Linked DNA regions of Homo sapiens: all the other regions are linked to region 3. Evidence: fine-mapped expression QTL. A gene starts in region 3. Each other region holds a variant in brackets. All regions are shown on one strand. Distances are from middle to middle. Region 1 holds the start of NATD1 (N-acetyltransferase domain containing 1). Region 2 overlaps MAP2K3 (mitogen-activated protein kinase kinase 3). Region 3 holds the start of MAP2K3 (mitogen-activated protein kinase kinase 3).

Region 1 (6,463 bases), 34 kb after region 3:
TACTGAGCGCCCTGTGCGCCAGGGCTTTGCTATACACAGGCCGTGCACACAGCAAGTGCTTAATAAATGGTGGCTGCCTTGGGGACGATTAGAATGTCCATACAAAAGATTGTTACGTCTTTTTTAGAAGGCTCCTTGCGGGGGTCCCAAAGTTGCACGTGGGACAAACGCAAGACGGAAAAGTAGCCGGCGCGGCGCGGCGGCGGCCCGTGTTGTTTTGTTTGGGGCTGCGAGAGGAACGCGGCCGGCGCGGCCCCTTTAAGAGGTGACTGGAATGTATCAAAACAAAAAGGCCGCGCGTCCACTGGCTGCGCGCCGCACGTGACCTCACAGCTGATTTCCTGGCCCCCCCCCCACCCTTTTTGTTGCTGCCGCCGCCGCCGAGTGTCACTTTCAGCGCCGCCGCCTGCGGTCTCCCAGGCCGTAACTACCCCACCGCCTGCCGCCTGCGCCCGCGCTCCAGCCCCGCCGCGCGCCTGACCTTTCCCCGCGCGCCCCGGCCCCCGCCGGCGCCGCGCCGCAGCCCCGCGCGCAGATGGCGCACTCGGCTGCCGCCGTGCCGCTGGGCGCGCTGGAGCAGGGCTGCCCCATCCGCGTGGAGCACGACCGCCGGCGCCGCCAGTTCACTGTCCGGCTCAACGGTAAGGCGGCCCCGGCCCGCCCCGACCTTTTGTCTGCGAGCGAGCGGGGCCCGCCGGGGCCGCCCCCTTGCTGGGTGCCTGTCCCCCGCGCGCCCGCGGCCCGGCTCCGGCCCGCCGCCCGGGAAGGCTGTTGCAAGCGCGCGCCGCGGGGTGGTCCCGGGCGGCCGGAGCTCCGGGCGCGGGCCGGGTTGTGCTCGGGGCCAGGTGGGGGCGCGGCCGGCGCTCCGGGAAGTGGAACGGGCTGGGCGGGGGCAGACTTCCCGGGAGAGCAGGGGCCAGGGCGGACAGGGGCCCCTGGAAAGGCAGAGGCAGGAGCTGGGGCAGCGCGGGTCCCCTGTCTCAGCCGCAGGGGACCCGCACCTGCTCAGGCCCACTTGTTCACGACTGTTGGGCACCCACTGAAGGCTCCTGTTTGAGATCCTGGAAAGTTGGTCAGCCGTGACCTGTCCCCTTCTGCGGGTGGTATATGGCTTCCTGCTGCCCCTGGGAATCTTAGTCTTTCTACACGGGGGAGGCCTGCGGACCTGGGGCTGACCGCGAAAGGGGCTTGTGGTCCCCTGGGGGGAGTGAGGGGCGGGGGGATGGCTATCACTATCAAGACTTCAGTGGCTCTGGGACTGGCCATTTGCCTCACTTCTGTGTGCCTTAGTTTCTCCCTCTCTGCAATGGGAATAATACCAGTGCACACCCCATTGGCTAGTTGTAAGGATGAAAGACTGTAACAAATGTAAAGGATCAGACCAGCTCATGGGGGATTAGTAAGTGCTGGTAAACGTGGCCCGATCGTGATTCGTGAAGCCAGAAAGCAAGGGCAAGTTCTCCCTTAGTGTAGAGAAGTTTTTGTTTTTTGAGATGGAGTCTCACTCTGTCGCCCAGGCGACACAATGTTCCTGTGACACAATCTCGGCTCACTGCAACCTCTGCCTCCTGGGTTCAAGTGATTCTCCTGCCTCAGCCTCAGGAGTAGGTGGGATTACAGGCACCCACCACCATGCCCAGCTAATTTTTGTATTAGAGACAGGCTTTCACCATGTTGGCCAGGCTGGTCTTGAACTCCTGACCTCAGGTGATCCACCTGCCATGGCCTCCCAAAGTGCTGGGATTACAGGAGTGAGCCACCACGCCCTGCCAGTGTAGAGAAGTTTTGATTAGCCCATCCCCCCTCAGGAGGTCCCACAGGTAGGAAATAGAACTACAAAAACAAGGGCTATGAACTCCCTGTGGCCCACCTCGCCCCAGTGGGAATGTCCAAGCTGGACCGGTCCTTAGGGGCCACTGTGCCCATTTTCAAGAAGGGAAGGTGGAGGGCCAGGAAAGGGAAAGGCTTGCGAGAGGTCAGGCTGAGAGTTGGGCAGAGCTGGGATGGCGTCCTGACTGGTCTGACTCCCTGAACGGTGGGGCTCCTGCGACCCACATTTGGCTTCAGCCAGGAGGGGCCTCTGCCAGATCTCCGATGCCATTTGGAATGTGCCGAGTGTCGAGCCAGGCCCCACTACAGCTTCGTGGATGGGACTGTCACAATACCCTGACAATGTTGTGACATACCACCC[C/T]GTGTTACAGATGAGGAAACTGAGGCTAGGGACCTTAGGAAGTGATTGCCCAGCATCACCCAGAACTTCACCATTGGCCCAACCAACCCTACACCACCAGGCAGAGGCAAGTCCTGCTACTGCTGTGGTGCTGGCAGGGCTCAGCTGGCCAGGACACTCGGGGCCCTGGCGACTCTGGGAGAGAGGCCTCATGGCTTTCAAATCCTCTCTTCTGAGGTTCCAGAGCGGCCTCTGGTTCCCTTGTGGGCTCGGGAGGGCCATTATACTCAGAGACAGAAAGAAGAGGGGATACGTTTGTTTTTTTTTTTTTTTTTTCTTTTTCTTTCTCTTCCAAGTGGGTACAGCCAAAGGACAGCCCTCCAGAGCTGGCCGTGGTCAGGGCTGGACATGCCCAGCCGTATTTCTAAACTTACCCCCTTCTGGAATTCACTGCCCAGATAGCTGACCACAGATGTGGCTGGGCATCTCCCCAGCCAAGCCCAGGGGAGAAAGAAGAGAGAGGCCAGAGGCCCCCAAGGGAGTGGCTGTGCAGCACAGGGTGGGGCTCTTCTGGGCTTCCAGGCCCCACTGGGTTTGGGTGTGTGTCTTGGGACCAGAGAGGGGTCGTCTGAGTCTGAGCCCAGGCCTCCCTGAGCTGAGGAGGACAACAGGCTGTGGTGTCATTCCCGACCTGTAAGGCAAGCCTGGAGGCTGGTGCTGTTGTGCCCACTGAGAGATATAAACACTGAGGCTGAGGGGTCAGGTAGCCCCAGGCTCCTGGTGCAGAAGTGTTCCTAGGCTGTCCACATAGCACAGCTAGGCTGATTCTCTTCCTGCGAGCTCTGGTTCTGAGTGAGGGAAAACGTTTGAGCACCTTTGTTTATTAAGCATTTACAGTGTTCTAGGAGGCCCTGGGCACCTGGAGTCACTTTATTTCATAGCCACACACCACAGGGAGAGGGGAAACTGCATTTCCCATATACAGATGGGGAGACTGAGGCATGGGGAAGTGAAATGACTTGCCCAAAGTCTTGCACCACAGAGGTGGAAGAGCTGTGATTCACCCCGCAAGTATTTGTTGAGCACCTACCATGTACCAAGCACTCTTTTAGGTGTCGGGGTCTCCTGGGGCTGACAGTTTAGAGAGGGAAATGGACAAGAAATAGAGTCAGTTTTAAAGTATCCTGGAAAACAAGGGCTTTCATGAGAGGTGCAGGGGGCAGAGGGGAGGCTGTGTTGGGCAGGGCTGCTATTTACAATCATGTGTCTAGGAAGGCCCCTCCCTGGAGGGTGGCATTTAAGTGAAGACCTGAAGGAGGCAAGAAACAGAGCTGCAACAGGGAAGAGTGTTCCAAGTGGAGGGAATAGCAAGAGCAAAGGCTCTGCAGTGCCTGCGATGCCTTGTGTGTGCAGGATGGGTCAAGAGGTCATGGGGAGCAGGTGGTGCAGGGCCTGGAAGCCGTTGTCCTATGGGCTCGGCTTTGACTCTGAGGCTCCCAGGAGGGTCCTGAGCAGAAGACAGATGGGATGCCCCAGCTCCCTCTAGCTGCTGCTCTAAGGGGAGCAAACTGTGGGGACCAGGACAGAGCAGGGAGGTGGTTACTTTACTAGTCCAGGCACTGCAAACAGGCGTGGGAGAAACGTCTAGATCCTGGACAGATGTGGAAGGAAGCATGGCTGTGACTTGCTTGTGGGTGATGAGGGAAGGCTTGAGCTCAGGCTTGTCTGATGCCATATCCTGGTTCTGAAATGCAAGCTTGTCATTACTTTATAGATGGGGAAACCAAGGCGCACAGCCTGTAGGCAGCTAAGCCAGAATCAAGCCCCCGGCCTCCATCTGAGGACGGTTTCTGAAGGTTGGAGGCAGCTGGAAGAGACCCCCACCTCCTGGGCAGCCCCTTCCTTAGCCTTCCCTTTCCCTCACAGGCAGGGCTGAGTGTCCCACTTGCTGCAAGGAAAGGAACACTTGAGGGGTGCAGAACCCTGGAACTTTCTGCGTCCTCCCTAACCCCCATTTTGCAGCCAGGAAGACTGAGGCCCCAGAGAGTCAGCTGCTGCCCCTGGCCTCCCTCAGCACCCCTGGATGCAGTGGAGCTAAGATCACAGCCCCAGGCTTTGGGAGGTGCTCAGATCACAGCCCCAATATGAGGCCGCTGGCTGTGTTGGGCTGGGCTGGACCAGGGTCCTCTGGGGAGGGGAGGGACGTATGGTTGAGCTTCTCCAGGCTCACAGCTCCCTCTGCCTAATCTACCAATGAACCACCAACATGTGGCACCTCCCTGATCCAGGCTCTACTTACAGAGGTGCCAGAAAAGCCGGCCAGGGTGTCTGCTTGTCCTTGTCCCGTGCCACAGCTCTGGCGCCTGGGCTCTGCCTCCGTCTACCTCAGTCTCCTCATCTGTATATTCGCGTTTTGATCTGCCAGCTCTCCTTGCGGGGTCAGTGTGGGCCGAGTGGAGAAAGCAGAGGTCAATGTCTTCTGCAGACTCCACATCTCCCAGAGGTCCTGCCCCTGTCCCCTGTCTGCAAGCTTTGGTCTTTCTCTGTGATCGCCTCCCCTGACAATTTCCTGGCCCCCTTTGGTCCCGAGGTTCAGGAGGGGCAGAGAGAGCATGGGGGTGCAGAGACCCAGGGACGGGTCCCCCACGAGCAGTGTAGCTTTAACTTTTCCCAAACCAGTCACGTGATGCTGGTGGGGTTCTCAGGCCCAGGAGGGAGGAGGGTGGTAGTGATCATCCAGGGACAGGTGAGGTCTCTGGGGCAGAGGGGTGTCAGGACTGGCATAAGATCACCTGGCAGAGTTGAGACTGGAACTGAGGGCCCTGCCCTGCCCTAGGCTTGCTCCTGTGGCTCCCAAGTGACAAGTCTTGCCCCCCTGTGCTAGTCTGAGGTCTGGAGTTCTCAAGGCAGCTCTTAGAGCTGCCCAGATAAGGGCCTGGGCCAGGCCCAGAGGCTATGCCTATGTCACTGTGAGCCGAGACAGCAGGATCCACAGTGCCCAGAAGTGAAAGCGTGGCTGACAGTGCTACCCTGGTGTCCTGCTGTCCCATCATGGGGGCTGCGGGTGGTCAGGGGAGGCTTCTGGGCACGTGACCTTTGGGCTCACCTGAAATGAGAAGGAAGGGTCCCCGGAGGCCCTGGGCAGAAAGGTGACAGGCAGGGGAGCAGCCACCAAGGCAGGGAGGCCAGAGAGGCAGCTGGACCCCAGGCATGTTTAGAAAGCCATGTCCACGGTCCTGCCGAGGGTCAGGTCAGATGAGAAAAGGTGAGGAGGAGCCAAGGACCTTGGTCAAGCTTTGGGGACTTGGGCATTTTCCTGGGATGTCCAGGCAGGTTTGGGGCAGGACAAGGAGTTGAGCGTGAGGACCGGTATTGCATTTGTGGCCTGTGTCATGGGTGTAACACTTGTGACTGGGTGGCCTTTGAAGGCCCTCCAAGGTGGGGTTCAGGTCCTGGCCAGATGCTCCGAGGTTGCTGCCCAGGAGCCTGGCTCCTCGCTGGCCCAGTGCCATGTGGTCTGGCCCATGTAGGGTGTCCATTTAAACTCGGTCTTTTCCTCACATACAGCCCCACCACCACCGTGGCCACCCCAGATGCCCTCTGTTCCCCTTTCAGCCTGAAGACCCTCCTTTGACTCAGCCCTATCCCCAGTCAACTCCATACACCTCCGTGACTCTCATTCCAGGTGAGCCCAAACGTCACCTGCCCAGAGGCCTCCCCTGACTGCCCGCAGCACCCATGACGGGACAGCAGGACACCAGGGTAGCACTGTCAGCCACGCTTTCACTTCTGGGCACTGTGGATCCTGCTGTCTCGGCTCACAGTGACACAGGCATAGCCTCTAGGCCTGGTCCAGGCCATAGGCCCTTATCTGGGCTAGGCTCTAAGAGCTGCCTTGAGAGCTCCAGACCTCAGACTAGCACAGGGGGGCAGGACTTGTCACTTGGGAGCCACAGGAGCAAGCTTAGGGCAGGGCAGGGCCCTCAGTTCCAGTCTCAACTCTGCCAGGTGATCTTACCCCAGTCCCGACACCTCTCTGCCCCAGAGAACTGACCTGTCCCGGGATGATCACCACCACCTTCCTCCCTCCTGGGCCTCGGTTTCCCCATCTGTACATGGGGCTGTGAGAATCGTGTTTAGTGGGATGGTTGTGAGGATCGTTGTGTGGAGAGAGCAGAGCACGAGCCTGCCCTGTGCTGGGGCTGCACACGCTTGGGCCACCACCGCTTCTGTCCTGCTGTCTCCTGGGAGCCACAGCCTGAGGTGCAGGCCTGGCTGTGGGAAGGCCAGCAT
Region 2 (8,424 bases), 29 kb before region 3:
CAGGGACAGGGAACAGGGGAGAGGGGCCCTGCCGCTTGAGACCTCCACGGGTAGTATAAACTGTCAAGGGCCTGTGCTTTGTAAATGTTAGTGACCTGCGCACTGGCTTCCGCACTCTGATGGCTGGACACGCTCTGTAAAAGCCAAAGGGTCCCATAAATGGCAAGGGAACTGCAAACGACTGGGGCTGCAGTCGTGCGCGGAGGAGCCTGCTCTCTGTGAAGGGCTGCGGCATCCAGCCAGGCCTGCGGCGTCCAGCCAGGCCTGCGAGCCGCGAGGGGCGCGGTGGCCTGCGGGGCGCTGGGTAACTTCAGGGGCGCGCACGGTAAATCTCTAGGCGTTGGGTCTGCTGCTGTCTGCAGGCTGCAGAGTCCCCGGAAGCCCCGAGGGCCGGGCCAGGGGGTGCACACGGGCAGGACAGCCGCAGAGGCCGAGAACTGGGCTGACGCGTGGCAAGCCCGCGGCCTCCAGCTGCGCCGAGGACGCACGAGGACGCGGACGGGCGCTCGGGGCCGGGCGGGGCTCCAGGACACGCGGTTGAAGCCGAGCTCTACCGCCCCCTGGCGGCTACAGGAGACAGAGCCTGGGGCCGCGCCCCGGCAAGGGATTCATTCCCTCCCTCCCCCCTTCCCTCCCTCCCTCATTCATTCTTTCATGTGTTCATTCAGCAGAAGCCGAGCGCTCCCTCGGTGTCGGCAGCATTCTCAGCGCTGACGACACAACAGTGACAAGTCAGGTCTCGGCCAGGATAACCCAGGATAATAAGCTAGATTGGCTGGGCCTAGTGGGCGGAGGCTGTTTGAGCCAGAGTGGTCCTGGAAGACCTCGCTGAGGAGGTGACATGGGAGACCGGGATGGGGTTGGGGGGAGCCAGCCACAGGAAGACGGGGGAGGGGGTGTTCTACGCAGAGGGGACAGCCAGTGCAAAGGCCCTGGGGTGAAAACAAGTCTTCATGATTGAAGGATGGAGAGAGGGAGACAACAGCTCCCAGGAACTGTTCGCCCCTGTGCCAGGGAAGGGTTAGTGGGCAGAGACCTGTCCCAGACTGGGGCTGGAGGACAGGAGGAGTGCAGAGACAGACCCCATGGGGACCCTCCTCCTGGGAACACACCCTAAGCTTCCTCAGAGGACCACAGAGACCCTGCTCTCAGACCTTGAGCTGTAGTGGGCGGAGTCCCCTCATGCCTGACCTGACCTGAGCTGTCACACCCACCCTCCTGGCCTGGGGATGAATTCGACTCCTTCCCAGCTGGTAAGAGCCAGTCCTGGGACTTCAGGAGTACCCTGGGCACGGTGTGCCGAGCTCTTGGAGTCCCTGGGTCCTGACTGGTCCCCATGAGGGGGTGAACCTGAGACGGATGAACAGCCAAGGTGGATGCAAGTCCTTCAGGCCATCAGCTGAACTTCGAACCTAACGGTACCTGAAGCTGAGCACACCCGGCTTACGTGAGCAAATTCCCTGCTGCCCCAGCCATGCTGCCAGCGTCACAGGGCCAGACTGCAGGGCGCCTTCATCAGGCTGCCCCTACTCCCCTCGGAGCCTTCTCCGGAGCCCACCACCTGTCCCCAAGTCTGTTTTTCTGTCTTATAAGCTGTGTGGCTTTGGGTAAGTGATGTCAGCTCTCTGGGTCTGTTGTTCCCATCTGTAAACTGGAGGTCAGGTAACCTCCATGAGGTCACCGTGTCCAGCCCAGGCAAAGTGTGCAGGGTGCTCGCTGCTCTGTGACCTGGCTGTCATCACTACTTCAGGACAGTGGGATGGGTGGCCGCCACCAGCAGACTGGACCTGTGTGTTCGCTGCTCTGTCCAGTGTCAGTACAGGGCCTGGTGCCTGGATGATCACAGGATGTTACCTCATCACAGCCCTCTGGGGGCCTCTGTGTCCTCAGATGTAGAAGGGCCTGGTAGGTTGGCAGTCCTCCCTCCCCTGAGCACGACACCCTGCCCCTGGCCCAGAGACAAGGGTCCCTTGAAGGGCCACAACCTTCCCCAAGTAAGAGGGGGGCTCACAGGTGTCATACACAATCTCACACAACCTTTAGTCCTTTTTTTTTTTTTTTTTTTAATTAAAACAGCAACCAGGTAACTGCCCCAACCCATCAGGGAAAGGACCCGGGATGGGCAGTCGTTTTTTCAAAAAAATATATTTTCTTTTTTTAAAAACAACACCAAAGCAAACCCATAGCCCCTGTCAAGCCAGTCCTCAGGGAGAGTGAGCTGGAAGGCTCCCCCTGCACTTCTCTGAGCAGAGATCTTGGGCCCCTCCCACTGGACCCCAGCCTGAGCAGAGGGCAAGGCTCTGCCTGCTGGTACCCTAGGGGGTGGGGGAGAAGCGATCAGCTCCAAACCATGCAAGAAAAACAAGCCAAACCCATAAAGCAAAAGAAAAAATCAACAGAGGATAAATTAAAAAAAACACGAAAGGTGAATGACACCGATAACGGTGGCGGGCAGGACTGGGTGAGCCAGTGTGCTCCGCAGAGGCCCTGTTTGCCAGTGCCAGGGGAAGGCCTTGGGCGGCTCATGGCATCTCCCTCATGGGAGTCTTGGGGTATTCACACAACTCATCCCCTCTTGTGTACCCCGCACCAAAGCCGGGATAGAGGTGTGGCCACCCTGGGCCAAAGTGTGCAAAGTCCATTCAGTCGAGAGATTAAAAAAATATACAACTTGGATGGCATCCAGGCTGGGCAAGGCGGTGGCCCATCCACCCAGGCACTGGCAGCCTGCTGTGCAGGGGCAGCAGCATCCACAGGGGGCATCCAGGCCCCCTCAGTCCAGGATCTCAGCAGCTGGAGACGGGTCCTAGGAGCAGCAGGGAGAGGCACTGGTGGGGCCGACAAGGGCCTGGCTGGGAGCCCCAATGGTCTGCTTCTTTGGCACTTGGGACAAATGGCTCGCCACAGAGCCAGGTGGGAGCAGCCCCCTCGGTTCCTCCCAGATGCCCTGGGCCAGGATGGCAGTAGCTTATGGTGTGGGTGAGCACTGCCCCCGCAGATGGGGCTGTGGGGCTCTGGAGGGCCGGAGTGGGGTCCGAGGCCCAGCCCCTATGAGTCTTCTCCCAGGATCTCCTTCACGAAGGCAGCAATGTCCGTCTTCTTGGTTTTGTGCAAGGTGAAGAAGGGGTGCTCCTGGGGGTGACAGAAGGCACAGTCACCATGGAGGGGTAGCGGGAGGGAGAGGTGGCCACTCTTCCCCAACCAGCTCCAGCCCAAGTGTTCTCCTGACTGGCAAAATCCTACTCATCCTTCTAGGACCTCCACCCCCAGGAGGCCCTCCATGACTGTCACAGATGGCATCTGTGGCTCCTCCTCAGCTCTCTTGTGGTCACTCTCCAGCCACACTAACCTCCCTTTCCCCCCACACGTCAGGCCTCTGCCCATGCTGGACCTTCTGCTTGGGACAGCCTCTCCATCAGGAGATAACCCTTATTCATCCTTCCAGGCTCAGTTCAAATGGTACCTCCTCCATGAAGCCTTCCCTGATGCCACCCTTGGCCCCTCTGCCCCATTCTGTCACACACTGCCTGTGTACCCTTCCCAGGGCCTGGCATGCAGGAAGGAGGGAGGAGGGAGCCAGGTATGCAGGAGCAAACAAATGACCGAGCACCTAAAGGAGAGAACACAGGGCCAGCCAGAGGAGCTACCCATCTGTGTGCAGGATGCAGCCCTCTCCCCAGAGCCCCACCCAGCCCCAGCCAGCCCTGAAGAGCAGGGCAGGCACCTCCCGCCCATACTCACCATCAGCTCCAGGTAGCTCATACGCTCTGCGGGGTTCTTCCTCAGGCTAGGAGAGAATAGTGCAGCTGTGGCCAGGCTGGCAGGGAGGAAGCCCAGCCCCCAAGGGCCAGCCAAACCACCCCAGGATTGCCCCAGGCCTAGCAGCAGGGGACACGTGCACCCAGGGAAGAAGGGACAGGACTGTCTAGGGCTTCTTCCAGGGTGGAGGGGCATTCATAGGAGCAAACTAGAGACTTGCAGCAAGTTTCTCTGGCTCCTGGGGTCCTGGTTTTCTTGTCTGCATAGTGACCTAGGAATTTCCATATCAACACCAAAATGGGGCTGCAATGCTCTGCCTAACAGTCACACACTTGGTATCCTCAATCAGGAGAGAAACTCCTTATCATGGGTTCTGGGAGAAGTTAGTCCACAATTAAAGGGGTCAGACTGCCCAGGGACTCTGCTGGGCTCCTCTGTTGCTGATTATGGTCAACAATAAAAGTGCGGGGACCATGGGTGTGAGCCACCGCACCCGGCCGCTTCTTCCTTACCCAATTCTTGCTCTATTTAATTAAGTTCAGAGAAGTTGCCCTCTTCCTTATTCCTTCTGTAACCTCAAACATGATTTTTTTTTTTTTTTGAGACAGTCTCACTCTGTCACCCATGCTGGAGTGCAGTGGCATGATCTCGGCTCAGGCTCACTGCAACCTC[C/T]GGCTCCCGGGTTCAAGCGACTCTCCTGCTTCAGCCTCCTGAGTAGCTGGGATTATAGGCATGCGCCACCACGCCCGGCTAATTTTCCTATTTTTAGTAGAGTCGGGGTTTCACCATGTTGGTCAGGCTGGTCTCAAACTCCTGACCTCGGGATCCGCCTGCCTCGGCCTCCCAAAGTGCTGGGATTACAGGCGTGAGCCACCGTGCCCAGCCTCTCAAACATGATTTTTATAAGGCTCCTATGGGGCATTCTTTAATTTGGTACAAAGTTCTAGATATCAATAAAAGCAAACTTGTTTTTTGTGTTCAAATTTTCCATATACTTTGTTCTCTTTTTCAGTCTATCTGATTTGTCCACTTCTGGAAGAACTGTATTAAAATCTCCCACCAAGACCATCGTTTTGTCAAATGCTCCTCATGCTCCAGCTGTTTCTGCCTTACATATTTGGATGCCAAGTCATCTGGGGGTTTATTTGCCAAAGGAATAAAGGAACAGGGCCCAGGAAGGTGCAGGGATCTGGCCAGGGAGGGGCAGTGGCAGGCGCTCAGCAGCACCCAAGACTCACCACTGAGCAGTGAAGTCCACAAACTCGGGGGAGAAACGGTCGGCTGGGAGCTGGGGGGACGGCTCCTCCACCACCTGCTTCAGCTGCTGGAACGGGGTCCCCCAGGACTCGTAAGGGAACCGCAGGATGGCCATCTCAATCTGCAGCGGGGACAGGGGGTCAGAGGCCCCGGCCCCAGATACAACCACGCTCTGCACCCAGGAGCGAGGGTTGGGGGCTCCCACCCATCCTGGTACCAGAGCCAGGCGTCAAAGCTGCACAGCTGATCTCCCTACCACATCCCAGCAGAACAAAGGCGAGAAAGCCGGGGATGCCAGCTCTTAGCTCCTCCGACCCAGCCAGCAGGACCCAGCTCAGGAAGCAGATTCAGCCCACACCGGGACTGGTGGGACCATCATAGGGTTTTCAGAAAACCTGAATTCTGAAGATTTTACAAAACAATGCAGGTTCCAGCTGCTCTGGAAAAATCTGAGGAGCTGGCAACTTTGGGCCGTAGCCTCATGAGCCAGGTGGGCAGGTCCCAGGTGGTCACAGCCAATCCCCTTCCTAACATCTGACCATCTCAGACTTCAGCATCTGCTGTCATTAATTTGGGCTGTTTTCACAGAGGAGGCACATGGGAAATGCTACACACACACACACACACACACACACACACACACACACACACACAGCTGTCTCCAAGGCCGCGGACAGAGTGTGAGACCATGAGGCTGCTTCGCCTCTGCACCCGTGAGCCTGCAGCCTCATCTTCTGCAGGGCCCCAGCAGTTTCCCTCCTAGACAAGTGGCCTGTGTGGCCACATGTGCCCTGCTGGATCCAGATTTCCTGTGGGTGACATCGGGCCGGTGGGTCTCTGTCCTCGCTCCAAGCTCCCAGCCCTGTGGTTGGCAGGAAGTCATCATGGAAGGGACGGACTAGCTAGCTTACAACCAACTCTGGGCTCCAATCATGATGACTGGATGGAAAAAACAAGTTATGTCAGCCCTGGCCCCGGCCTGGAAGAACAGAGAATTCCGAGGCTCCAGCACAAGGGCCCTCACTGCCGGCCGTCATCACCATGATGAACGGAAGAGACCTCAGCACAAACACTTGGCACTGGCAACTGGAGCCCGGACAAGACCCTAAGGACTGTGCTGAGACTGTGCCTCCCATCAGGCTAGAGGCCCTTTCCAGCTCAGACAAACACACCCACACAGGCAGGGCCCACTGCGTGTGTGTGCATGTGTGCATGCGTGTTCACAGGACAAAACCGTACCGATTTGGGGGGCTTTTCTCTTAGAATTTTCACTGACTGCAATATGTAGAGCAAGTACCCCATACGAGCTACAGGAGAAGGACCAGCGGCCATGAGAGTTATAATTAGAAAAGCAGAAGTGTCCAAACCTTCAACCTCGTACTCCTTTATTTTTTCTAAAGAGCTCAAAAAATGAAAAACAACAAAAATAGCCTCCAGACACGAAGATGTGCCATATGGTGTTTTCTGCCAGGAAATACTAAGAAACAGCCTGAATGTCCAGCGCCAGGGGCCGGCCCCACCATGGGGGCGGAGACCCAGCCAGGACCGTAGTCGCACCCCTGTGACTCCCCAGCGACAACACTAACAGGCCAGCACCCAGTCAGCACTTGCTCCTGGCCAAGGGCCATCCCCGGCATGACCCCTGTCTGTTCTGGGTGATTCCCACTGGCATCCTGAGGCTTGTGCAGTGAGTGGGAAAAAGCCAACGCCAAGAGAGCTCTGGGGCCCTTGCAGGATGGGGGGAGGCCGAGGCCAGAGCCCCACCCAGGGGGACTCTCCCGACTCTGTTTCATCAGTCGCTCCCCCAGGATGGCTGAGAATTTGAAATGGAAGGAAAACAGCAGGAACAAGGGAAACAACCCACATCAGCAGACAGGGTGACTGAATGGTGGCAGATGGTTATGGAGTCTTTGGAAGGGATACATACAGGAGTCTATTATAATTTAGAGAAATTGGCCAGGTGCGGTGGCTCACACCTATAATCCAAGCACTTTGGGAGGCCGAGGCAGGCAGATCACTTGAGGTCGGGGGTTCGAGACCAGTCTGACCAACATGGAGAAACCCCATCTCTACTAAAAACACAAAATTAGCTGGATGTGGTGGTGCACACCTGTAATCCCAGCTACTTGGGAGATTGAGTGAGGCAGGAGAATCACTTGAACCTAGGAGGCAGAGGTTGTGGTGAGCCGAGATTGCACCACTGCACTGCAGCCTGGGCACCAAGAGCAAAACTACATCTAAAAAAAAAAACAACAAAAAAAACAAAAAACAAAAAAAACAGAGAGAGAGAGACAAATATGAACAACATGTAATGCTACAAAATTTTTTTTAAAAAGTTTTTTAAAAAGAAGCATTACGAGGCCAGGCGCAGTGGCTCACACCTGTAATCCCAGCACTTTGGAAGGCCAAGGTGGGTGGATCACGAGTTTGAGACCTGCCTAGCCAATATGGTGAAACCCCATCTCTACTAAAAATACAAAAATTAGCCAGGCATGGTGGCGCACGCCTGTAGTCCCAGCTACTCGGGAGCCTGAGGCAGGAGAATCACTTGAACCTGGGAGGCGGAGGTTGCAGTAAGCCGAGATCGCACCACCGCGCTCCAGCATGGGTGACAGAGCGAGGCTCTGTTTCAACAACAAAAAAAGAGAAGCATTACATATTGTTTGTATTTCTCTAAATTTTAATAAAACGTATTTTATTATATGTAATAAAAATATTATATATATAATATAATGCACAATGTTGGCACTGAAACGGGGTAAGAGGTGTCTCTAGGTAGAATAACTACAGTCATTTTCCCCTTACTGTGCCTCTATTTTTATGTTAGGTTTCCACTACGTTTGTAACTTGTGAAAGAAAAACCTAACCTGTGCCTAAAGTGACCACCTCCGCCTCCCGCTGTGTGCACCTGCTGATCCTCCATTAAGCCGGGAGCATTCCCTGCCCTTGAACCTGGGCTGGCCTGTGACTCGCTGACCAACACAATGAGGCAGAAGTGATGCTGTGCCAGTTCCAGGCCTAGCACTTCAGAGAACTTCCTTTTAGATGCCAGCCATCATGAAAGAACTCCAACTCTGCTGACACTGCCATGCTCTGAAGCCCAGGGAGCAGGCCAATGTGAGTAAGTTGCATGGAGAGGCCAGGCAGAGGAGGCCCATGTTTGTGAGGCCGTCTTGGGCCTTCCAGACCAGCCCAGCCCAGCCATGACCCCAGCCAATCCCAGGTACAGCAGAAGAGCCATCCAGCTGAGCCCAGCCACAGTGGTGGAAACATGAGAAATAAGAAACCGCTGTTGGTTTGGGTCACTAGGTTCTAGGGTGGTTTGCTATGCAATATTTGATAACTGAAATATACACTTAGCACACACTTGTCCAAGTTCCACCAGCCATATCAGAAGGCCACTAGCCA
Region 3 (5,000 bases):
CATCCTTCCCCAGACCCCAAAGAGACTACAGAGTCCCTGGGCCTGAGGGAGGTCCCTGACCCTCCATCCAGCCCCCTCAACCTCATCTAGGACCTGGGTCCACATCTAGAAGTTCATTTTGGCCCTCTCACAGCATTCTCACTGCATCTATGACCCCTCTCCTTTCACAACTCTGCAACTGGAACTTTTATTTTGATGAGGCATTCTCTGCCTGGAGAGCTAAAAAGCCTCCAAAACAAACAGTGCTTCCTACCCTTCCCCGAGCTCTCCAGAGTGGAGAAGTGTCTGATTTCCTGGTTCCCAAGCTCCACGAGGTCTGTGCAGTGCAAGTCCCTCCCCAGACACCTCCCCCGTCGAGTGCCTCCCGAGTTACTCACAGTGGTTGGGCAATGGTCAGGGATCCGGCCTCCCACTTATGTAAGGCATAATTATCCAGCCCACCCGGCTCCAGCCACCATAGCAGCCAGCAGCAGGGGCCAGGAAGAGCCCATGCCCTCCCCAGGCCCACATAGGGCTCCCATTGGCCTGCACCCTCCAGAACAGAAGAGCGGCTGACCCCTGATGAAGTGCCCACTAGGTGCCCGCTGCTAGGTGCTTCCTCCTGCTCACTCTGAGGCTGCACTTCCAGCAGTGGAGGCCTTTCCAGCAAGAAGAATGGAAACAATAGCGAGATGTGTGCAGCCAGTGTACCCTGGTGAGCACCGGCTCTGCGCCAGGTGCTACGCTGAGAGAACGCCTCAGAGCTCTTTACTATTCACCACCCCACACCACACTCCCACGTCCACAGAAGCAGGTGCGATTACTTCCAATTTACAGAAAAGGAAACTGAGGCCCAGAGACACCAGGGAGCTTGCTGGGGTGAAGCAGCTGCAGGTTCAGAAAGCCAGGAGGCAGCCCATTCATTACGGCTATGTCCGGTTTGGAAATCTCTCGCACAACCCAGCCTACTGAAACTCCGACGCACCAAAAACATCCTTTCCTCTTCCTGAAAAAAAAAAAATTCCCCTTTTGCCCTCCGAGTTTCATCCTTCCCCCTCCGCATGACAAATCCTGCTGCTGCCACCTCACAAAAATTTCCAGGAAGGCCAGCTACTTGGAGAAGAGCAAATCCCTTGCACAGCCAGCACCCTGGCCTGGCGGCTGGCCCAGATCCCAGGCAGCCAGGACAAGAATAAGATGGGGTGAGAACCCCCAGTGCAGGGAGAAGCTTGCAACTCAAGACAGAGAGAGGCCGGTAGAGAGGGGGCTGTACCTTAGGGAGGGGTGGGAGGACAAGGAAGGTTCCTGGGAGCCCAGGGCTGCAGGACAGGGTGCAGGCCAGCCAGGGAAGGGGCAACATAGGGCCTATAAGGATAAGAAGAGCTGGGGGAGAGAAGGACGGGGAGTTCCGAGCTGGGGTGTAGCCAGAGCACCCGCATAGGGGGTACAGTGAGGTCCGCAACAACAGGAGCACTCTGGGGCCCAGATGGAGACTCAAGTTAAATCCCAACCTGGATACAGCCCTGGGACCCGAAGCTAGAAATGGGACTGGGTGCTGCCCAAGGACCCAGGTGAAGGCCAGTGTGAATCTCACCTGGGTCCCGCTGAGGGAGAAGACTGGGAGAGTTCATGTCCAGGCTGCAGCCATAAGGCCCAAATGAGGTCAGAATGAGGCTCCTGACTTGGATGGGGTGAGCAGAACAAAGTCCTAGTCTGGGTCCAGCCTGGGTGATCTCGGGCCTGAGTGCAGTCCCAAGGCCTAACGTGGGGGTCCAGGTGAGGGCCCAGGCGGGGGCTGGTCCCGGGACCCCGAACAGGAAGGGGTTCCGGGACCGGACGCCGCTGCCAGGTCGAGAACAGGATGGGGTGGGACCAAAGAAAGGTCGGGGTTTGCAGCCCGGCCCCAGATTAGGCGCGGGGTCAGGCCGAGGTCCCGGCCGGGAGCGCCTACCTTTGGACTGGGGCATGCTGGCGGGCTGGCTCGAGGCGGGCGACTCCATGCTGCAAGTGGGTCCTGGACGGCGGTGGAGACTAATCTAGAGGACTGCGGGCTCCACCGGGGCCGAGCACGCTCATGGCTGCGGGCAGACGGCCCAGGCCAGGCGGAGGAGCAGCGGCGGCGGCGGCGGCGGCGGCGGCGACTGCGGCGAGGACTGCGGCGGCGACTGCAGCAAGGACGAGTCCGCGACGGGCGGCGCCGGAGACAGACTGGGCAGCGCCGGGGAGACCCCGGCCGAACTGCGCTGACTCAGGCCCCGCCCCTGCGTGCCCGATTGGTCCTTTCGTTTCCAAGGCCCGTCCTCTGCCTATCAGACGCCGGCCTGTCCCTGCCTGTCAAGCACACGCCCCACCCTCCTTAGGCCCAGGATCCGGGCCCCTCCCGCTCTCTGTCAAGTCCGCCAGCCGCCCGAAAAACCCAGGTCCGGTCAGGCTCCGCCCCCTGGACTAAAGCCGCGCCCCTCGCGCTGCCCGTCAACATGCAAGCCCCACCCACTCCCGGGACCCACTGAGCCCGCTGCTCCCTGCAGGCGCCCAGGCCCAGCCCGGCACCCCCAGACCCGCAGCCCCGGCGGGTGCGATGCGCGGGCGCGTTCTCCTGGGTGCGTCGTCTGGAAAAAACCCGAGATCCCTAAAGGTGGCACGGCTGGGCCTGCCGAAGTGGGCGGGGGTTAAAAGTGCGCTGCTGGGCTGCCTCCTGGCTCTCTGAACCTGCAGCTGCCTCACCCTAGCAAGCTCCCTAGTGTCTCTGGGCCTCAGTTTCCTTTTCTGTAAATTGGACCCGGGTTCGGATCCGAGTCGGCAGCTTTGTAGCGGAACTAGCCTTGGTCAGGTGGTGACACCTGAGCCTCAGTCTACGCATCTGTGAGCGGGCGGCGGTGACAGCTATCTCCCGGCGCTGCTCGCTAACACGCACTGAGGGCCTGGCGCCAGCAAACGTCGCCCGCGCCCGCGCTCCAGGCGCCCGGCCAGGGCGCGGGGTCGGTGGTGAGCTCAGCGATGCCCGGTGACGAGGCAGCACGAGGAGTTTTCGTGGCTGGTTACTGCTGCCCCTGTTCTACACAGGGGGAAACCGTGTCTCAGAGGGAGTGAGGCGGCATGCGGTGCATTTTATCCCGCGAGCCCCGAGGCCCCATCCTGGCTCTCTCCTGGACCTTCGTTCTCTCCTCTCCTCCTAGGATCTCAGTCTGCCCATCTGCATAATGGCTGGATGGGCCAGTCCTCCCTCTGCTCCCACACGGAACCTCGGGGGATTTCAGGAACCGCTGACCAATCTGGCGCTGGGAACAGATGACTCTGGATGTAAAGCCAGGGCTAGTGAAGGCAGAATGTACCAGGCAAAGGTCAAGGGGTCAGCCCCTGGCCTCCAGGCAGACATGTGTACCCTGTCAGGGACCTCACGTGAGGGAAGCAGATTCCACCACCTGCTAGAAAGGCTTGAGGCCGGGCCTGACCTCTGCTTGCCCAGGTGTAAAGTGGGGGTGATGCAGGGCCCCATGCACAGAGTGGGGAGCCACAGGAGATAAGAGGGAAGCCTTGCAGCCATCACCATTCTCTTCCTGCGTCTCCTGTTCACCCTTCCCAGGCAGTGGGATGGAAAATCATGAGTCTGGGGCTCAGATAGGTATGGGTTCCAATACCAATTCCTCCACTTACTAGCTGGATGACCTTAAAGAAGTCACTGAGCAGCTCTGTGCCTCAGTTTACCTATCCCATGGGGACAATAAGGTCTCTGAAAGCGTTTCATGAGTTCAGGAGTGGAAACACCTGGCCTAGGGCTTGGCACTCACTAGGTGCCCAGGAAATGTGAGTTTGAAAACACTGTGGGCTGCCTCCATCCTTGCCATATCATCCCTGGTGACCTGTGCTTATCCGTCTGTAAAATGGGCATCCAGGAGCAGCTTCCTTTCTACCAGAACTGCAAGGCTAGTCCAGCGAGTTTTCTGGGTTCAGGCACTGGCCAACAGCCTTGACTTCTGCACAAGGCCACACTCCGCCTTGTGCACTCTGCTTCTTGGGATGTTCAAGAGTCTCAGTATTGCCCCTCAAATGTGCCAGGGATGGTCCTGCCGCAGCAGCTTCACCCTTGCTGCTCCTGCCCAGAACATTCTTCCACTCAAGCCTCCTGGGGCTGGTTCCCTCTCATCCCTCAGACCGCTTCCTAAATGAACACCCCTAAGAGGCCTTCTCATCATGGTCCCCAGACTGAGGCACAACACTTATGCTGCTGATGTCTTTGTTACTGACTCAGTTTTTAACACAGCTCTCCCTCCAGACCATCCGAGCCTCATTCCCTGCTGTGTTCCCAATGCATAGCCCAGAACCAGGCACATAGTAGGTGCCTGATAAATATTTGAGGAATGAAAAAAGGAAGGAGGAAAGCATCCACAGACCAGGGTGAAGCGACTCCAGTCCCGTGCCAACCTCCTTGGCGGCCAGATGACTCAGACAGGCCCTCGCATACAAGGAGTTTGGGGATTAGTCAGGAGCCCGATAAACAGCTCAGGAATCACAAAACTCCATGTGAGTGCTATAAATAGATGCATGAGCAAAAGTCCCAGGAGGGTGCCTGGGTGATGCAGCCATCTCCATCTGGGTGGGGACAAGGAAGGCCTCTCAGAGGAGGTGATTTTGAGACTGGACTTTTAAGGACCAGTAGGAGCTTACCAGGCAGAGAAGCAAGAAGAGCATCCCTGGAAAGGAACAGCAGAGGCAATGGGTTGGAGATGTAAAAAGGGCCACACATGAGGACCAGGTGAGGGCCAGACTGGGATGCACAGCTGCACCACTGGAGCTCAAGAAGTACCATCAAGAACCATCAGAGACAAAGGTCTCTTGCTGGCTTGCTATAGTGACATCTCTTGATTTCTTTCTGTCTGTAAGTGGCACAGTCAGATTGGGGAACTCCATGACCATGCAGAAAGCAGAATAAATGTTTGACATGGGTCACAAGAGGCTGCCTCTTACCTTGATTCCTAGGAGAAAAGTCCCAAACCTGCTCTCTGTGGATGCAGGAAACTGAG

What was found. PIP is the estimated chance that this variant, and not a neighbour inherited with it, causes the effect. A credible set is the group of variants that fine-mapping cannot tell apart.
Region 1: its variant is the best candidate, but not a certain one, in a credible set for the expression of MAP2K3 in whole blood (INTERVAL, PIP 0.56).
Region 2: its variant is the best candidate, but not a certain one, in a credible set for the expression of MAP2K3 in whole blood (TOPMed, PIP 0.56).

Annotation. Positions count from the first base shown.
Region 1 is chr17:21,247,337-21,253,799 of GRCh38, reverse strand. It overlaps NATD1 (N-acetyltransferase domain containing 1), which reads left to right and starts at 390. Exons shown (of 3, transcript NM_152914.3): 1 at 390-641. The coding sequence starts at 536. RefSeq lists silencers at 389-498, 649-768 and an enhancer at 4,259-4,760. The variant C/T (reference allele first, on the strand shown) is at 2,192.
Region 2 is chr17:21,308,855-21,317,278 of GRCh38, reverse strand. MAP2K3 (mitogen-activated protein kinase kinase 3) reads right to left here. Exons shown (of 12, transcript NM_145109.3): 10 at 4,998-5,137; 11 at 3,742-3,787; 12 at 2,047-3,132. The coding sequence ends at 3,049. Among named protein-coding and RNA genes, the nearest start is that of MAP2K3, 28 kb to the right of the region's middle. RefSeq lists enhancers at 1-266, 4,675-5,292, 7,617-8,116. The variant C/T (reference allele first, on the strand shown) is at 4,432.
Region 3 is chr17:21,281,900-21,286,899 of GRCh38, reverse strand. It overlaps MAP2K3 (mitogen-activated protein kinase kinase 3), which reads right to left and starts at 2,189. Exons shown (of 12, transcript NM_145109.3): 1 at 1,931-2,189. The coding sequence starts at 1,979. RefSeq lists enhancers at 481-540, 2,617-3,117 and a silencer at 2,201-2,730.